2 separate regions of the Homo sapiens genome follow, and region 1 is linked to region 2. Evidence: fine-mapped expression QTL. Tissue or cell type: esophagus muscle. Region 2 holds a variant in brackets; the other region holds the start of a gene. All regions are shown on one strand. Distances are between the middles of the regions.

Evidence for each region. PIP is the estimated chance that this variant, and not a neighbour inherited with it, causes the effect.
Region 1: it holds the start of NAGS, and the variant in region 2 is fine-mapped to the expression of NAGS in esophagus muscle (GTEx, PIP 0.99).

What each region holds. Positions count from the first base shown.
Region 1 is chr17:44,000,751-44,008,850 of GRCh38, reverse strand. NAGS (N-acetylglutamate synthase) reads right to left here and starts at 4,229. Exons shown (of 7, transcript NM_153006.3): 1 at 3,762-4,229; 2 at 2,940-3,214; 3 at 2,614-2,827; 4 at 2,142-2,322; 5 at 1,357-1,528; 6 at 1,078-1,260; 7 at 1-403. The coding sequence starts at 4,187. The coding sequence ends at 250. It also overlaps a transcript of PYY not described here. RefSeq lists an enhancer at 2,551-3,306.
Region 2 is chr17:44,293,927-44,302,026 of GRCh38, reverse strand. RUNDC3A-AS1 (RUNDC3A antisense RNA 1) reads left to right here. Exons shown (of 4, transcript NR_110802.1): 4 at 1-2,453. Among named protein-coding and RNA genes, the nearest start is that of RUNDC3A-AS1, 10 kb to the left of the region's middle. The variant G/A (reference allele first, on the strand shown) is at 4,764.

The sequences.
Region 1 (8,100 bases), 290 kb after region 2:
AAATCGAAGGCCATTTGGTTGTAGCTTTAGAGTGAGTCGAGTTGGGGTCCTAGACTGGTCCCCTTCTTTCCTGTGCTTGTCCCACTTCAGCGCCTCCTCTGGGCAGAGCTGGGGCTGCTTTCTCCTCTGCAGATCACTCAGCCAACAAGCCCCCTTCAGCCTGTGGCTGGCTGCCTGGGGTCATGCCCAGCTGGCATGGCTTTTGGTCCACCCTGGCCATTCCAGGGCCTGTAGTGTCCATGGTGAGGGTCAGCTGCCTGGGTCAGAAGCTGGCTTGTGAAAGGAGTCTGGCAGTCCCTTGGCGTGGTTGACCAACTCATAGGAGTCCCGGATATCAGCCAGGCCAAACCAGAAGAAGATCCACTGCTTGTTGGAGAAGCTGCCATCACTGTGTTTGAAGTACCTGGGTGTGGGGAGGTGATGTAGGAAACAGTTTTTAGGGCAAGGCCAGTGTTCATTACTCACTGGTTCTGTCTTTAAAAAACATTGATTGAGGACCTACTGCATGCTGGGCACCCAGCTTGGTCCTGCTGTGTGTTATCTCATTTTATCCTCACAGCAGAGGCCTGAGCCTGGCATTGTGATGCTCAGCTCACAGAGAAGCAGCTAAGGCTCAGAGAAGTTAGGTACCTTGCCAGGCGCACACAGGAAGGGAGCGGGTGCTTTGCTCTCCACACTGCCTTGGCTGTGCAGCAAAGAGGAGGGTTCTTGCTCACTTCCTAGTGCTCACAGAGCAGGGTGTAGGGGTGAGGGGGTAGTTACTGAAGGAGAGAGGAGGGATGTTCCACTGGAGGCGCCGCAGGCCTCCAATAGACCCTGAAGGGTTAGGATTCCTCAGGCCCCTGTGAGAGGTGGGCTGCGTGGGGCTTAGGAGGTGTCACTTGCTGCCAGAAAAGGAGTGTTAAGCATGCTTTAACTCGGGAAATCTCAGGCTTTCTGTGTGTTCTGCCCCTGGGAGGTAGTGAAAGGGAGACCAGTGGAAGAAGAGGAAGCCCAGCCTTCTTGGCATGGTTGGCAAGGGTGGGAGAGGGGAGGGAAGTCAGGGCCCAGCCCAGAGCTGGGAGTGGCAGGACCTACCAGGGATTGATGGGGTTGGTGACCCGGGAGCGCCAGAAAAGTGTCTGAAGGTCCCGCCGCAGGCACTCCCACAGCATCTGGCCGGAGCCTTGGCCCTGGCGGCTGGAGCTCACCACAAATTTGTCCAGGTACGGGGTGCCCCCCAGGACGGGCTCCATGGTCAGAATGGCGGCGGCGTTGTACCTGGCGCAGCGGGAGAGCGGCAGGCTGGGACCTCTCCTTGGTCCGAAGCTGCCCGACTGCCCCCCAGACCCCGCCCTCTGGGGTCCGCAGGCTTACCCCTCGGAGACGTAGATGGAGTGCAGCCGCGGGCGCAGCGAGGCCAGGTAGTCGTCCCTGAGCTTCTTGCCGAAGCTGGCGTTGACCAGGTCCACTAGACGGCCCTGGTCCAGCTTGTCCAGGCTGCGCACCCGTAGCATTCGCTCGGCGTTCTTGAACAGGGTCCCGGACCCTGGAGGAGGATGGGGAGGGGCTAGTCTGGCTGGAGGGCCGTTTGCGCAGCCTGGTGGGGACTGCAGGTAGGACAGGCGCTGGTGGGACAATTTCCGTCTTTGGGAGACCTCCACAGTGAAATGATTTCAGTGGTCTGCATAGATTTGTCTGTGATTTTCATTCAAGGAGATGCTTTCCCCAGGCAGAGATTGTGCCCCAAGTTCCTCCTGTCGCCTGGAGCCCCACCCACTTCCGTTAGTCTTGCCTCGCTCCTTGAAGTCTGTCTCCCGCCGCTGACCCGGCCCACCCACCTAAGCCCCGCCCATCTCTCCCGGTCGAACACCTCCCTTATGGTCCCGCCCCTGGCCCCGCCCACCGGGGGGCCCCTCCTTCTCCCCCCTAGTCCCGCCCATTCCTTTAATTCCTTCGGAGTTCCCTTCCAGTACACTGGGTCTCCTCCTCTCTCACCTCCCCCGGGTTTCGGCAGCAGCAGGAGCCATTGCTGTGACACCCCCCGCCTCCCCCTACGGCTCCTGGACAGGAGGAGAAGCCGCTCCTCCTGACCGCAGACACCCAGCCCCGGCCAGTACTCACTCCCGGGACCCAGTCCCCGGCCCGCCCACCGCCCTCACCCTTGTTGCTAAAGAGCTCAGTGAGCAGCGTGCTAGCGGCGGTGATGACGGCCGAGGAGTGGTGGGGCAGGCGGCTGAGCACGTCCACGATGAGCCGCATCTGCTGCCGTTCTTTTGTGCTCACCCACTCGGCGTTGCACACCAGGTCCAGGTCGGCGGGCAGGTTCACGTTACTCAGGACCTGTGTCCGGAGTCAGCGGGTGAGCCTGGCCCACAGCCGGCACGGACTGCCCCCCTACCCCCACGGACCTCTCTTTTCTCTGACCCCTTTATCCTTACTTCCGCCCGGAGTCCTTAGCCAGGGAGGGCGCAGATCTGGGCACCCAGGGCTGAACTCCTCCCCTATACTCCCTTAGGCTTTTCTACCCACCCGGCTTGCTAGTGAGTCTGCGGCCCGTCGGGGAGAAGTGCGAGGGGCGCAAGAGAAGGCCCGGATCGCCGGCGTGGGGGAAGGTGAAAGAAAGGGCCGCACCTTATGACTGCTGTCGCGCAGGCCGCCTGTGTTATTGAGGAAGATGATTTTGGTGGGCCGCAGCGCCTTGGCCAGCGACGCGGTCACCTCCAGGGAGTCGAGAAGCACGGAGCGGCGCGCGGCCGTCTCCCCGATGGGGCACAGGATGGGGATGCTGCCCGACTCCAGGCACCACTGCAGCAGGTCTGTCTCCACCGAGACGATGCCGCCGTAGCTGTGGGCCAGACGTGGTGCTCGAGAGGGCCCCCTCCAGGCCTGCCGGACGGGGCAGGGCGGGCAGAGTAGCACGCTCTGAGGACGCCTGGGCGGGCAGGGCGGGCACTCACCTGGCATGGGGAGCCGGCTCGGCAGCGCGTAGCACAGACCCGCCGCCAAAAAATGGCACAGCAGCGGCGGCGTTGTGTCGAAGCGCGTCTACCAGCACCTTGCAGCTCTTGGCCAGCTGCGCCTTGGCCTCCCAGAAGGAAAGACAGCCCGAGGGAGCCGTAGGGGCCGGCAGCCCCAGGACCACCAGCGGCTTCATGTCCATGCGCTGCAAGAAGGCCAGGGCAAAGGCCAGACTGGATACGCCCTGCTGGCACTTGAGCACCTCCTCGTCCACCTGCGGAGGAGTGGGCTTTCAAGGAGCGTGACACGGACCTGAGCCGCTGGCTCCCACAGCCTGGCCTGCAGGGCCGTCTCGGTGACCCTACCCTTCCAGAAGCTGTCAGGACCCAGTTCTGGCCACCAGTGCCCACCTGCTCCGCCCTTTGCCCCGTTGGGTCTTGCCACTCCCTTGTCTCACGCTGGGGTACCTCCCGCCCTCCTCCCTCCGACCTTGGACTCCGGGACATCTTTGGGGGAGGGGCAGTGCAAGCGGCTCCTGTCCAGGTCCTTCTGAACCCCTAACTGCGCCCATGTTGGGGGCCTTCTTCAGAGCATCACACCTGGCGGGTGGGGTCCCCCAGGATCCTCACTCGGGCTGGGCGGGAGGCTTCCGGAGGAGCTTACGGCCTCTCCCATTCCCGGCGGCGCTGGTCTGGGCCCTGCCGGGCTCCTTCCCGCTTCCGCTGCGCAGAGCCCGCAGCGTATCCTGCCATGCCTGAGGACAGGTGGCCGCACAACCCCATCCCCTCGCTGCGTCACGGCCCACGCCGGGCTCCGCTCACCTCGATGACGGCGAAGGGCTTGTCCGCGGAGTGATGGCAGGTCTGGAACTGCGTGAGCCAGTGGCGCGCCTCCCCAGGGCTGGCCCCGCACTGGTTCAGGAAGGCCTGGATGTCCCGCTGCACCAGCGAGCGGCCCGAAGGAGGCTCTGGGGACTCGTGGGGCACCGGGGGCCTGGGACTCGGCACCCACGACGGCTCCTCGGCGACGGGCGACTGGGAGACGTCGTCCGCGCCCGCGTACTCCTCGGGCGGGGGCTGGGGCTGCGACCAGGCGGTGCTGAGCCGGCGCCCCGGGCTGGTGCCCCTCGCCGCCCGCCGCCGCGCGCCACAGCTCAGCCTTCGGGCGCCCCCAGTGCCTCCCCGGCCTCTCAGCCTCGGGGCTACAGCAGCTGCCCGCAGAACCACAGCCATCAGCGCCGTCGCCATGACGACAACCAACTCTTGCCCCCCAAGAGTGGCAGTCTGTCTGGAGCGTCTGGCACTGGGGGGCTCTTAACTTGCCGTTGGGCGGGGCTGGACCTGGTCGGGGCGGGGTCCGGACAGGGGACCAGGAGTCTCCTCTGGGTGCGTTTGAGGAGGGTCAGGCCATGAGTCAGGGGGCGGGGCCACTAGGCTCCCCCGCCCCTGGAGGAACTGAACCCACTATCGGTCATGGGGCCGAGACTAAATGTGGCGGGTTGTCTTTAATCTGCTGCCAAGGTAGGTTCCAGGGGCGGCTTTGGGAGTCTGCAGGGCCTTGGATGATTGGCATTCTGACCAGAGAAGAAGGGACTGTAGGTGGCTTTGAGCACAGGGCTGGGCAGGGGGCTGGAAGGAGGGCGCTGGAAAGAGTAGAAGAAGGGGGGCAGTGGGAGGGCGGGGGCGGGTGGTGCTGGCCTTGTCTGTCCTGTTGCCTGAGCTCAAAAAAGATCCTAATGAATGACCATGAGGTTACCAGGGTTTGCCAAACTCCAGTCACTGGGTACCAGCTTGAGGAATTCTGTGATATCCTCAAAACACCCCTCAAAACTTATAATACTTTAGTGTTAATGCTTTTCTTTATCGAATATCACATCTGGTAAAAATAAAATAAAATAGAGTTTTTTATTTTGGTTTTTGAGATAGGGTCTCACTCTGTTGTTGCCCAGGCTGCAGTACAGTGGTGCAATCATAGCTCACTGCAGCCTCCACCTCCCAGGTTCAAATGATCCTCCTGCCTCAGTCTCCCTAGTAGCTGGGACCACAAATGCACACCACCATGCCCAGCTGATTTAAAAAAAAATTATTTTTTTTGAAGACGGGTGTTCACCATGTTGCCCAGACTGTTCGTGAACTCCTGAGCTCAAGCAGTCCTCCCACTTCTGCCTCCCAAGGTGCTGGGATTACAGGTGTGAGCTACTTCACTCGACCTCTGTAACCCTTTTTTTTTTTTTTTTTTTTGTTTGTTTGTTTGTTTGAGATGGAGTCCCACCCTATTGCCCAGGCTGGAGTGCAGTGTTGCGATCTCGGCTCACTGTAATCCCCGCCTTCTGGGTTCAAGCGATTCTCCTGCCTCAGCCTCCTGAGTAGCAGGGATTACAGGCAGACACCATCACACCCGGCTAATCTTTGTATTTTTAGTAGAGACAGGGTTTCACCATGTTGGCCAGGATTGTCTCAAACTCCTGACCTCGTGATCCACCTGCCTCAGCCTCCCAAAGTGCTGGGATTACAGGCGTGAGCCACCACGCCCGGCCCTCTTTAACCTTTTTAAACTTAAAGTTTATCCATGTTAGGTCTGTAACTAGGCCAGTATCACTTGCCATAAGCCTTAAGAATCAAGTGAGGAGGCGGGTGGGTCATTTGAGGTCAGAAGTTCAAGACCAGCCTGGCCAACATGGTGAAACCCCATCTCTACTAAAAATACAAAAATTAGCCAGGCAGTAGTGGCATGTTTCTGTAATCCCAGCTACTCAGGAGGCCAGAGAATCACTTGAGCCTGGGAGGAGGAGATTGCGGTGAACTGAGACTGTGCCACTGCACTCCCGTCTGGGCGACAGAATGAGACCCTGTCTCAAAAAAATTAAAATTAAAATTAAAATCAAAATTAAAAAAGAATCAAGTGAGAGGAAAACAATGTTATTACATTCCATTATATTCCATCTGCATAGCTTGCCTGCTTTCTTGGTAACATGGAAGGTTAGCAGGTGCCATGTGTTAAAGATACCCTAGCACCAAGCAAAGCCTTCTGTGTGGTAGAGGAATAGCTAACACATGTCGAATGCTAGGCACTATGCAAAGGACTTCACAAATAGTCATTCATTTAATCCTCTCAGTGACTCCAGGATAGCTATTATCATTATTCCCATTTTACAGATGAGAAAATGGAGGTACAGAAATATGTGAGGATCAGGGTCACTCAGCTCACAAGCCGTGGAGCTGGTCTAGGAAGCAGTTCTGCTCCAGATCCATGCTGTTAAGCAAGTTTTGGAAAGGAGTTGAAAGGCTTGAAAACATTCACAGGATATGATTCAATGTTACTTCATACTGTGTCCATGTGCTGGGCACTGTCAGCTGCACACATCCTGCCCTTGGGTACACTCTGATCCAGTCAGACCCTCTGTTGTTGTAGAGGGGGAAAGAGGACCCTCTGTTGTTGTAGAGGGGAGGTGACCTGGCCAAGGTCACACAGCTCGTCAGTGGCATGGCCAGACCCTAAGCACCCTCAGTTCCTACCCCTGCTCCTCCCTGCTTTCTTGCACGTGGTTTTGTCTCCCCATGCTGGAGTCCTGACACCTGGGGCTCTGCCTTTTTGGGGAGCAGGGCTTGGGCTACTTCCCTCCTGAGGAGTCTCCAGGGGAGGCCGAGTGAGTGCGCTTACCCGTTTCTGGGATCTTCCCCGCAGTCCCCCACCCCTCGGACACACTGTCCCGGGGGGGAGACTCTGTAGTGGAAGGAGGGGCTGACATAGGACCTCCTCATTGAGTTTTTTTGTTTTCCCACTTAGAAATCTTGGGTTCCAAGGCAAAGCATGAAGCAATGGCGTGGAGGGGCTGCACCCCCTACCTGGTGGGGCCACCTCCAGGGCCTTCTTTCTCTTCCCTCTTTACTCTCAGGCCCGGCCACACACACACTTCTCAGAATCCACTGGAGGAGGAGGTCTTAGCCTCCAGGGGCATAATAGTTTTCCTCTCCAAACTCCTTCAACCCAAATGTGCTTCTCTTTCCCTAGGCTGCAAGGCCAGCTCTTCATCACAGCAGGCCACCCCTGCTGACCCCTCTCCACTCAGAATTCCTTCTTGTCTCTGTCCTCTTTGACTCAGACTGGGGCTCCCTGAGGGCAGGACTGGTATCTCCCTCAGATGGGGGCTTCCTAGGGATCCACCCAATTCAGTCCCTGCTGACTGAATCAGCTCCATTGCCCCTGAGCCTATGAGGTGGAAATGGGCTGGGAAGCGGCTTCTGACTCCTTTGGGCTTCATCCCAGAGGGCCGTGTCCCCAGGCAGCCAATGGGGCCCAGAGATACCAGAGTAGATGATTAACTCCAGGCCCATTGACCCTGGGGCCACTGTGTCCCCTCCACCTCTCCTCTGGTTGGGGACTGGCCCTGCTTTCTGGAGGAGAAGAGTGTGAGTGTCTGGGGTCAGCACTCCTACCCAGCCCCACCCCTCTGAGTTGAAGGCCTACAGGATCATTGTTGATGTATGGGTCCAGCTCACATTTTTCTTCCTTTAAAGGTGGGTGTTATTTTGTTAGAGCAGAGCCTGTTGTCATTGTGCCCAGGTTCAGGGGCCCAGCTTCTCACCAGGCTTGGGTCTTGGAGATCCTGGGAGCAGAGACATAACTTCCACCCAGAAGGGTCCTGGGCCCCGAGCACAGTAGCCAGGTTTAAGCCCAAGGCTTTCCCTCCCAATACAGCCCTTCTTGGCCGCATCTCAGCCCAGCAGGGCATGAATGTGACAGGAATTGGCCAGGGTGAGGGGCTGGGGTTGACATTTGACAGTACCACATCACAGCTCCTGAGGGGAGACACACACACAAACATGCACAGTACACAAATACAGAGCCCCATAGCATTGAGATGCAAACAGATAAACGATGTGTAGACACACGGGTGTACAAAGAGACACAGTAGACAAACTTGGAGACCCACACCAGCCACAGTCACACAGACACTCATCTGTACGTAGAGGAATGCCCCTGTACACCATACAGGTGTACAGAGGTACACAGATCCACTCATACACGTTTGGATACAGAATTGTGCACTCACATAGGCCAGGTGTGGTGGCTCATGCCTATAATCCCAGCACTTTGGGAGGCTGAGGCGGGCGGATCACTTGAGGTCAGGAGTTTGAGACCAGCCTGGCCAACGTAGCG
Region 2 (8,100 bases):
ACTTGCTCATGTGTGTAAGAGTTTACATGAGGGCCTCTGTTCTATTTCATTGGTCTATACGTCTGTCTCTATGCCAATACCACTCTATTTTGATGAATGTAGCTTTGCAGTGAGTTTTAAAATCAGGAAGTATAAGTCCTCCAGCTTTATTCCTTGTTCATATTTCAACTTTTGTGATAATCATTTCCTTGCTTTTCTTTATATTTTTATCACCCATGTGTGCACCGCCTACAAGCAGAACCTAACAGGACAGTAATGGAGGCTAGGGAACTGGTTTGCAGAGTCCCAGCCCCCTTCCAACATCAGAGAGCAGAGAAAATAAGAATGAATTTGAAGCTGAAAGTCAATAAGCAAATAACTGGCATTATCTACCCCTTTTTTCTATGCAGTAGTTACACATCTATCCATCATATTTGAATAATAACAGCTTCATCCCTTTGCCTAATAGATGCAACTGTCCTTTGCTCAAATGAAGATGCTCTGGGGCCCTCCCCCAAAAGCAGAGACGCAAAGTCTCTACAGCAATGGGATCCCTTTCCGTGTGATGTGAATTCTCCTAGTTCAGCCACATGTCCTCTAGAGTATTCTGCAACCTAAATTATGAAGGTCATCACCAACAACAATCCTCATAAAAAATAAGAGAAAAGAAGGAGAGGAAAGTTAACCAATATTTAAAGAGTGTATATAACAAAACAAGCAAGAGAAAACATGCCCATGGCTTCTACAATCCTTGCTTCTATATCTGGTCAGAAGCTGATATTATAACTTTCCTCTTCCATTACCCTTGAAGGGTTCAAGGGATTCTCGTGCCTCAGCCTCCAGAGTAGCTGGGAATACGGGTGCCCACCAACCACCACACCTGGCTAATTTTTGTATTTTTTTTAGTAGAGACAGGGTTTCACCATTTTGGCCAGACTGGTCTCGAACTCCTGACCTCAAGTGATCCCCACCCACCTTGCCTCCCAAAGTGCTGGGATTACAGGCGTGAGCCACCGTGCCTGGCCCCAAATCTGTATTCTTTATTTTTATTATTGTTATTATTATTATTGTTGTTTTTTTTTTTGAGACGGAGTCTCGCTCTGTCACCCAGGCTGGAGTGCAGTGGCGCGATCTCAGCTCAATGCAACCTCCGTCTCCCGGGTTCAAGCAATTCTCCTGCCTCAGCCTCCTGAGTAGCTGGATTTACAGGCGCCCACGACCATGCCCGGCTAATTTTTGTATTTTTAGTAGAGAGAAGGTTGCACCATATTGGCCAGGCTGGTCTCTTGGCCAGGCTGGTCTCAAACCCCTGACCTGGTGATCCGCCCATCTTGGCCTCCCAAAATGCTGGGATTACAGGCATGAGCCACCACGCCCGGCCCCCAAACCTTTATTCTTAAAATAAAGGTTTCAAGAATAAACCTTTATTCTTGAAATTAGCATTCTACAAATTGGAATCCTCAGAACTGTATTGCTCTTTTTTTTTTAACTTTTACTATTGGACACGGAAATAGGACATGGCACACCAGGGAGTCCCCTGGGTTCCAGACATAGTCCTCCCTGCCTTTCTTTTGGAGTTAGAACCCAGCTTACCCTTGGCATTTGGGATCAGTCATCCCAGAAGGTAACCCCTTTTTTGCCCTGAGCTCAGGTGAGAGCCTTATCTTCCAGGTAGTGGAACCATTGCAGTATCTCCTCGTGAAAGGATTCCTCCCTTAGTGTGGCAGATGCTGGCAGTGCCCTCCCATGTTCCTGAAGCTCTTGGGTTCACTGGATGAACTTCCAGCTGCCAGAACCTGCAGCTCTTTATCTAAGGACTCTCTCTGGCCACTGGAGCCTGCTGAGCAGGCTGAAAGTTCTGGGGAATTATACTCCCAGCCACAGCAACCTTCAGCCAATCACCGATGGGGATCGGTGCGTAAATAGCCAGCTTCCTCATCCCTCAGGTCCTGCAGCAAACATTATGACTGGCTCCCTGAGTTCCTTCTTAGGATTAAGCTCTGGTTGTCCACGTGTTTTGTTTGTTTGTTTGTTTGTTTTGTTGTTGTTGTTTTGTTTGTTTTTGAGACAGAGTCTCACTCTTGTTGCCCAGGCTGGAGTGCAATGGTGCAATCTTGGCTCACTGCAACCTCCGCCTCCTGGGTTCAAGCAATTCCCCTGCCTCAGCCTCCCAAGTAGCTGGGATTATAGCCATGTGCCACCACGCTCGGCTAATTTTGTATTTTTAGTAGAAACGGGGTTTCTCTATGTCGGTTAGGCTGGTCTCGAACTCCCGACCTCAGGTGATCCACCTGCCTTGGCCTCCCAAAGTGCTGGGATTACAGGTGTGAGCCACCGCACCCGGCCGGTTGTCCATGTTTTTAACTTGCTTGATAACACACCCTTTATGAGCCTCCTTTCTTTCCAATGTCAGTCTCCCACTGGCTTGCTTGGTATTCCTAGCATCGCTTTTCAAATAAACACTTGTGTTTCTCAAATAAATACTTTCCTTTGAATCCTTGACTCAGGTTCTACTTCTGGAGGGAACCCAAACCAACACATTTGATATCCAAAGTTGTCCTAGGAAGTAGACCCCCAGGATAAGATTCTGGTTTTGGATCACTCATCATCCAGATGGCCCAAAGATTCCATTGCTGAGGTAAGTGGGGTACTAATACCCACTGGAGAACTGGACTGATCGTCAGACTGTCACCCTGGTGAAATGGGATGCAGACAGGGATGCACTGCCTATGCAATAGCTCTAGTATTTGAGGTGTAAGAGGAAAATGGTAATTATAAGGACTGTGGAGACTGGGCTCAGTGGTTCATGCCTGTAATCCCAGCAGTTTGGGAGGCCAAGGCGGGTGAATGACTTGAGGTCAGGAGTTCGTGACCAGCCTGGCCAACATGGCAAACCCTGTCTCTACTAAAAATACAAAAATTAGCTGGGTGTGGTGGCAGGCACCTGTAATCTCAGCTACTAGGGAAGCTGAGGCACGAGAATCACTTGAAGCCACAAGGCAGAGGCTGCAGTGAGCTGAGATTGCGCCACTGCACTCCTGCCTGGATGACAGAGTCTCACTCTGTCATCAAAAAAAAAAAAAAAAGGAGTTGTTTGGTTGCTGTTAATGCCATCAAAGGGTTAAAAGAATAAAAGACAGACTCACATCAGCCAGCTATCAATTTATGATATAGTTAAAAGCTAGAAGAAGCCGGGCTCACACCTGTAATCCCAGCACTTTGGGAGGATCACTTGAGCCCAGGAGTTCGAGACAAGCCCCAGCAACATAGGAATACCCTGTCTCTACAAAAAATAAATTATCTGGGTATGGTGGTGAGCACCTGTGTTCCCAGCTATTCAGAAGGCTGAGGTGGGAGGATCACTTGAGCCCAGGAGGTTGAGGCTGCAGTGAGCCATGATTGTGCCATTGCATTCCAGCCTGGGCGACAGAGCAAGACCCTATCTTAAAACAAAACAAAAACCAGAAGACCTCTATGGCAGCATGTAAGGAAACCCTCACCTCCTGTGCAGGGCAGACTGTGATGAAAATCAGTCCTATAATCTGATTGCAAGAGTAGCAGGGTTTTATATTTAAAGCCCCAGCAGGTCAGGGCCCTGGGAGGGAAGGAGTGGGATCCTGAGGCCTGGTATGGGAACATCTGTTCTAAAACCCCCTTATTATGCTGAGTTATTTGGGCTGGCAGAATTGGCCTCTCCCCCTGGGTGGAAGAGAGCAGCCTCCCCTTGCCTAGATAACATGCAGATTCCTCACCTGAGGCAGACGCCTCACAAGATGATACTTGCCCTCTTCAAAGCCTGATGTTGACTCCCCTCCATGACTCTAGACCAATAACAATGGTCAAGTCTCATCAGGGACCAAGTGGGGAAGCACTGTCCCATCTATGGAAAGAAAAGGATGATTCACCAAAAGACCTGCAGGAGCTGGTGAACATTTACCAGAAGAATTTGGCAGAACATGTTTGGGAACATATCTTGAGGGTGTTAGACTGGGGTCAGGGGGTGGAATATAAGGCTGAGTAAGGCCGGGTCGGGTGGCTCATTCCTGTAATCCCAGCACTTTGGGAGACTGAGGCGGGAGGATCACCTGAGGTCAGGAATTCGAGAACAGCATGGCCAACATGGTGAAACCCCATCTCTACTAAAAATACAAAAAAATTAGCTGGGCCTGGTGGCGTGTGCCTGTACTCCCAGCTACTCAGGAGGCTGAGGCACAAAAGTCCCTTGAACCCGGGCAGTGGAGGTTGGCAGTGAGTCTAGATCGCACCACTGCACTCCAGCCTGGGTAACAGAGTAAGACTCCGTCTCAGAAAAAAAAAAAAAATGCTGAATAAGGGTACGTTTATTGATATGGAATGCCCTACCTGGTAAGGATTTAACATTTTATTTTATTTTATTTATTATTTATTTATTTATTTATTTATTTATTTATTTATTATTTATTTTGAGATGAGTCTTGCTCTGTAACCCAGGCTGGAGTGCAATGGTGCGATCTAGGCTCACTGCAACCTCCGCCTCCTGAGTTCAAGCAATTCTCCTGCCTCAGCCTCCCGAGTAGCTGGGATTACAGGTGCACACCACCATACCGGGCTAATTTTTGTATTTTTAGTAGAGACGGGTTTTCACCATGTTGACCAGTCTGGTCTCAAACTCATGACCTCAAGTGATCCATCTGCCTTGGCCTCCCAAAGTGCTGAGATTACAGGAGTGAGCCATCACGCCTGGCCTGGGATTTAACATTTTAAAGCTTGGCAAGGACACCAGAAGCCTGTTGCAATATGCCCCC[G/A]GGATAGATCTTCAAAGTGTGGAAAAACTATGAGTTCCAGCAAATGAGGTAGAGATGTTGGAACTTCCTTGACAGAATACTTGGAAGAATAAAGGCTCAGAAAAGTGGGCATGCCAGAATAAAATGACTATTATATAAGACTATAGAACCCTCCAGCCTACTGTGTTCTTCATGAGGGCCCAGAAATACTCAATAAATAAAGTGATACAAAAGGTGCTAGTTGGAACAGGGCCACTGGCATTTGCAGGTCAGTGGTAGCTGTCCTCAGCAGGCCAGAGCAATGGTAGCGGGAGCTGCTATGGGACTAGCCTTTCTAGAGTCAGTGGGTATAACAGGAGTCCAGAACGAGGTCAGGCGACAGCACGTGGTCATGAGAGGCTAAGTGGACATAATTACCGTAATAGGCAGAAAGACCAGAAATGTAAGCAGGGATCTATTGTGATGACCAAGAGACCATGGTGTTCCCAGATAGGAGGATGGTGAAGGAGGGTATCTCTTGCTTATAAAAACAAGCAAGAATGAGACAGCAGAAGGCTGAAGTTAGCCACTGCAAAGGAAAATCCCCATCCCATACCCAGTTTCCAGGCCCAAACCAGTTTTCAGATATAGAGCCCTTTGTCTTTTTTTTTTTTTTTTTTTTTTTTGAGATGGAGTCTTGCTCTGTCACCCAGGCTGGAGTGCAGTGGTGCAATCTTGGCTCACTGTAACCTCCACCTCCCAGGTTCAAGCGGTTCTCCTGCCTCAGCCTCCCAAGTAGCTGGGATTACAGGTGCTCGCCACCACACCTAGCTAATTTTTTGTATTTTTAGTAGAGACGGGGTTTCACCATGTTGGCCAGGCTGGTCTCGAACTCCTCACCTCAAGTGATGTGCCACCTCGGCCTCCCAAAGTGCTGGGATTACACATGTGAGCCACCAAACGTGGCCAAATATAGAGCCCTTTCATTGAAGTGGGGGCCAGTTCCCTTCAGGAAGAATCCTACAATGCCATGGCAAGTTTATATCATGGTAATTATCCTATTCTTCCCCCAAAGGTACTTACAGCTGCTTATCAGAGCAACTGCATCCTGGGGAAAGGGAAATACTCAGATCTTTCAAGGCTTTTGGATACAGAGTTGGAACTGACACTAATATTAAGGAACCAAAATGCCATCATGGGCATGTATTAGTGTGGGGCATATGGAGGCCAGGTGATGAAAGGAGATCTGGCCCATCAGTCTGCTTGATGGTTATTTCCCTGGCCCCTGAATACATAGTGGAATAGAGGTACTTAGTAGATAGCAGATCTCTCGCGTTGGTTTCCTGAAATAAGAGCCATTACCACACCTGTAATCCCAAGTGTGGAGGCCAAGGTGGGAGGATCACTTGAGCCCAGGAGTTTGAGAGCAGCCTGGGCAAAATAGTGAAACCTCATCTCTACAAAAAAATTTTTTTAAATTAGCTGGGTATCGTGGCACACTCCTGTAGTCCCAGCTACTCAGGACACTGAGGTGGGAGGATTGGTTAAGCCAGGGAGGTCAAGATTGCAGTGAGCTGAGATTGTACCACTGCACTCCACCCTGTGTGACATAATGAAACCATCTCCAAAAAAAAAAAGAATGAAATAAGAGTCATTAGGGTAGGAAAGGCCAATTAGAAATTGCTTCCTCATCTCCCTCCCAAGAGAGTTAATCAGAAGCAATGCCCCAGCCCAGGTGGAATGGCAGTGGTTGGAGTCACTCACAAAGGATATAAAAGTGGTGGTTCCCAGGATATCCCCATTTAATTCATCAATCTGGCTCTTGCAAAAACCAGATGGATCATTGTAGATGAGGGTGCACATAACCAAGTGGCGCCCTGATTGAGTGCTGTGCCAGATGTGTTAGCTTTCTTAGAACAGATCAACAGAGTCCCTGCCATTTAGTCCATGACTGTTAATTTGTTGAAGGAAGTAAGATTAGAAGCAGATTCCTGCCAGGCTCGGTGGCTCACGCCTGTAATACCAGCACTTTGGGAGGCCAAGGCAGGCAGATCACTTGAAGTCAGGAGTTTGAGACCAGCCTGACCAAGATGGTGAAACCCTGTCTCTACTAAAAATACAGGAATTAGCCAGACGTGGTGGTGGGTACCTGTAATCCCAGCTACTCAGGAGACTGAGGCACGAGAATCACTTGAACCCGGGAGAGGGAGGTTGCAGTGAGCCGAGATCGAGCCACTGTACTCTAGCGGGGGCAACATAGCGAGACTCAGTCTCAAAAAAAAAAGCCGATTCCTTTCCCTGAGGACAGACAAAAGTCCACATCCACAGTCTTACCCCAGGGCTATGTTAACTGTCCTGCTTTCTGTCATAATAGAGCAGAAACCTTGATCATCTTGGCATTCCACACAACATCACACAATCCATTGTACCGACGACATTGAGCTAATGGAACCTGGTGAACAGAAAGTGGCAAGGCACGTGCTTGCCAGAGGTTGGAGGATAAATCCTACAAAGACTCAAGGATCTTTGCAAAATTTGTCAGAGTCCAGTGAACTGGCACCACCATGTGTCTCCTATCCCTAGGAAAGATGCACAAAGCCTGGCAAGCCCCTTCAGATATGGGAGATGGCACATGCCACACTTGGAAATACTGCTCCAACTAATTTTCAGGGAACTCCGAAGGCTGCTGGTTTTGAGTGGGGCCCACAACAAGAGAGGTTTTTTTCAGTCCAGGCCAAAATGCAAAGTTCCCTGCCACTTGGGCTCATATAGCCTAGCAGATGCCATCTATCTATGATTCATAGGATGCTTTGGGGAGTCTCTGGCAAGCCCAGAAGGTTCTGGAGCAAGGCCATGCCATCTACAGCAGAGGACTGTTCCGGTTTTAAAAAATAATCTTCTGGCCGGGTGCATCGGCTCACACCTGTAATGCCAGCACTTTGGGAGGTCAAGGGATCACCTGAGGTCAGGAGTTCGAGACCAGCCTGGCCAACATGGTGAAACCCTGTCTACTAAAAATACAAAAATTAGTCAGGTGTGGTGGTGCACGCTTGTAGTCCCAGCTACTCGGGAGGCTGAGGCACGAGAATGGCGTGAACCCAGGAAGTGGAGGTTGCAGTGAGCCGAGATTGTGCCACTGCACTCCAGCCTGGGTAAGAGAACAAGTCTCTGTCTCAAAAAAAGAAGTCTTCGGTTGTGCTGCAGAGACCTGACCATTGGACAGGTATGGTGATGTGATCAGAGCTGCCCATTGCGAAGCGGGAACTGTCAGATACACCAAGTGACACAGTTGAGCAGGTGCAGCAATAATCCATCCTACCATGGAAATGGTGCATTCCAGATGAGGACTACTCAGCCTAAAGCGCACAAGTAAGTTACA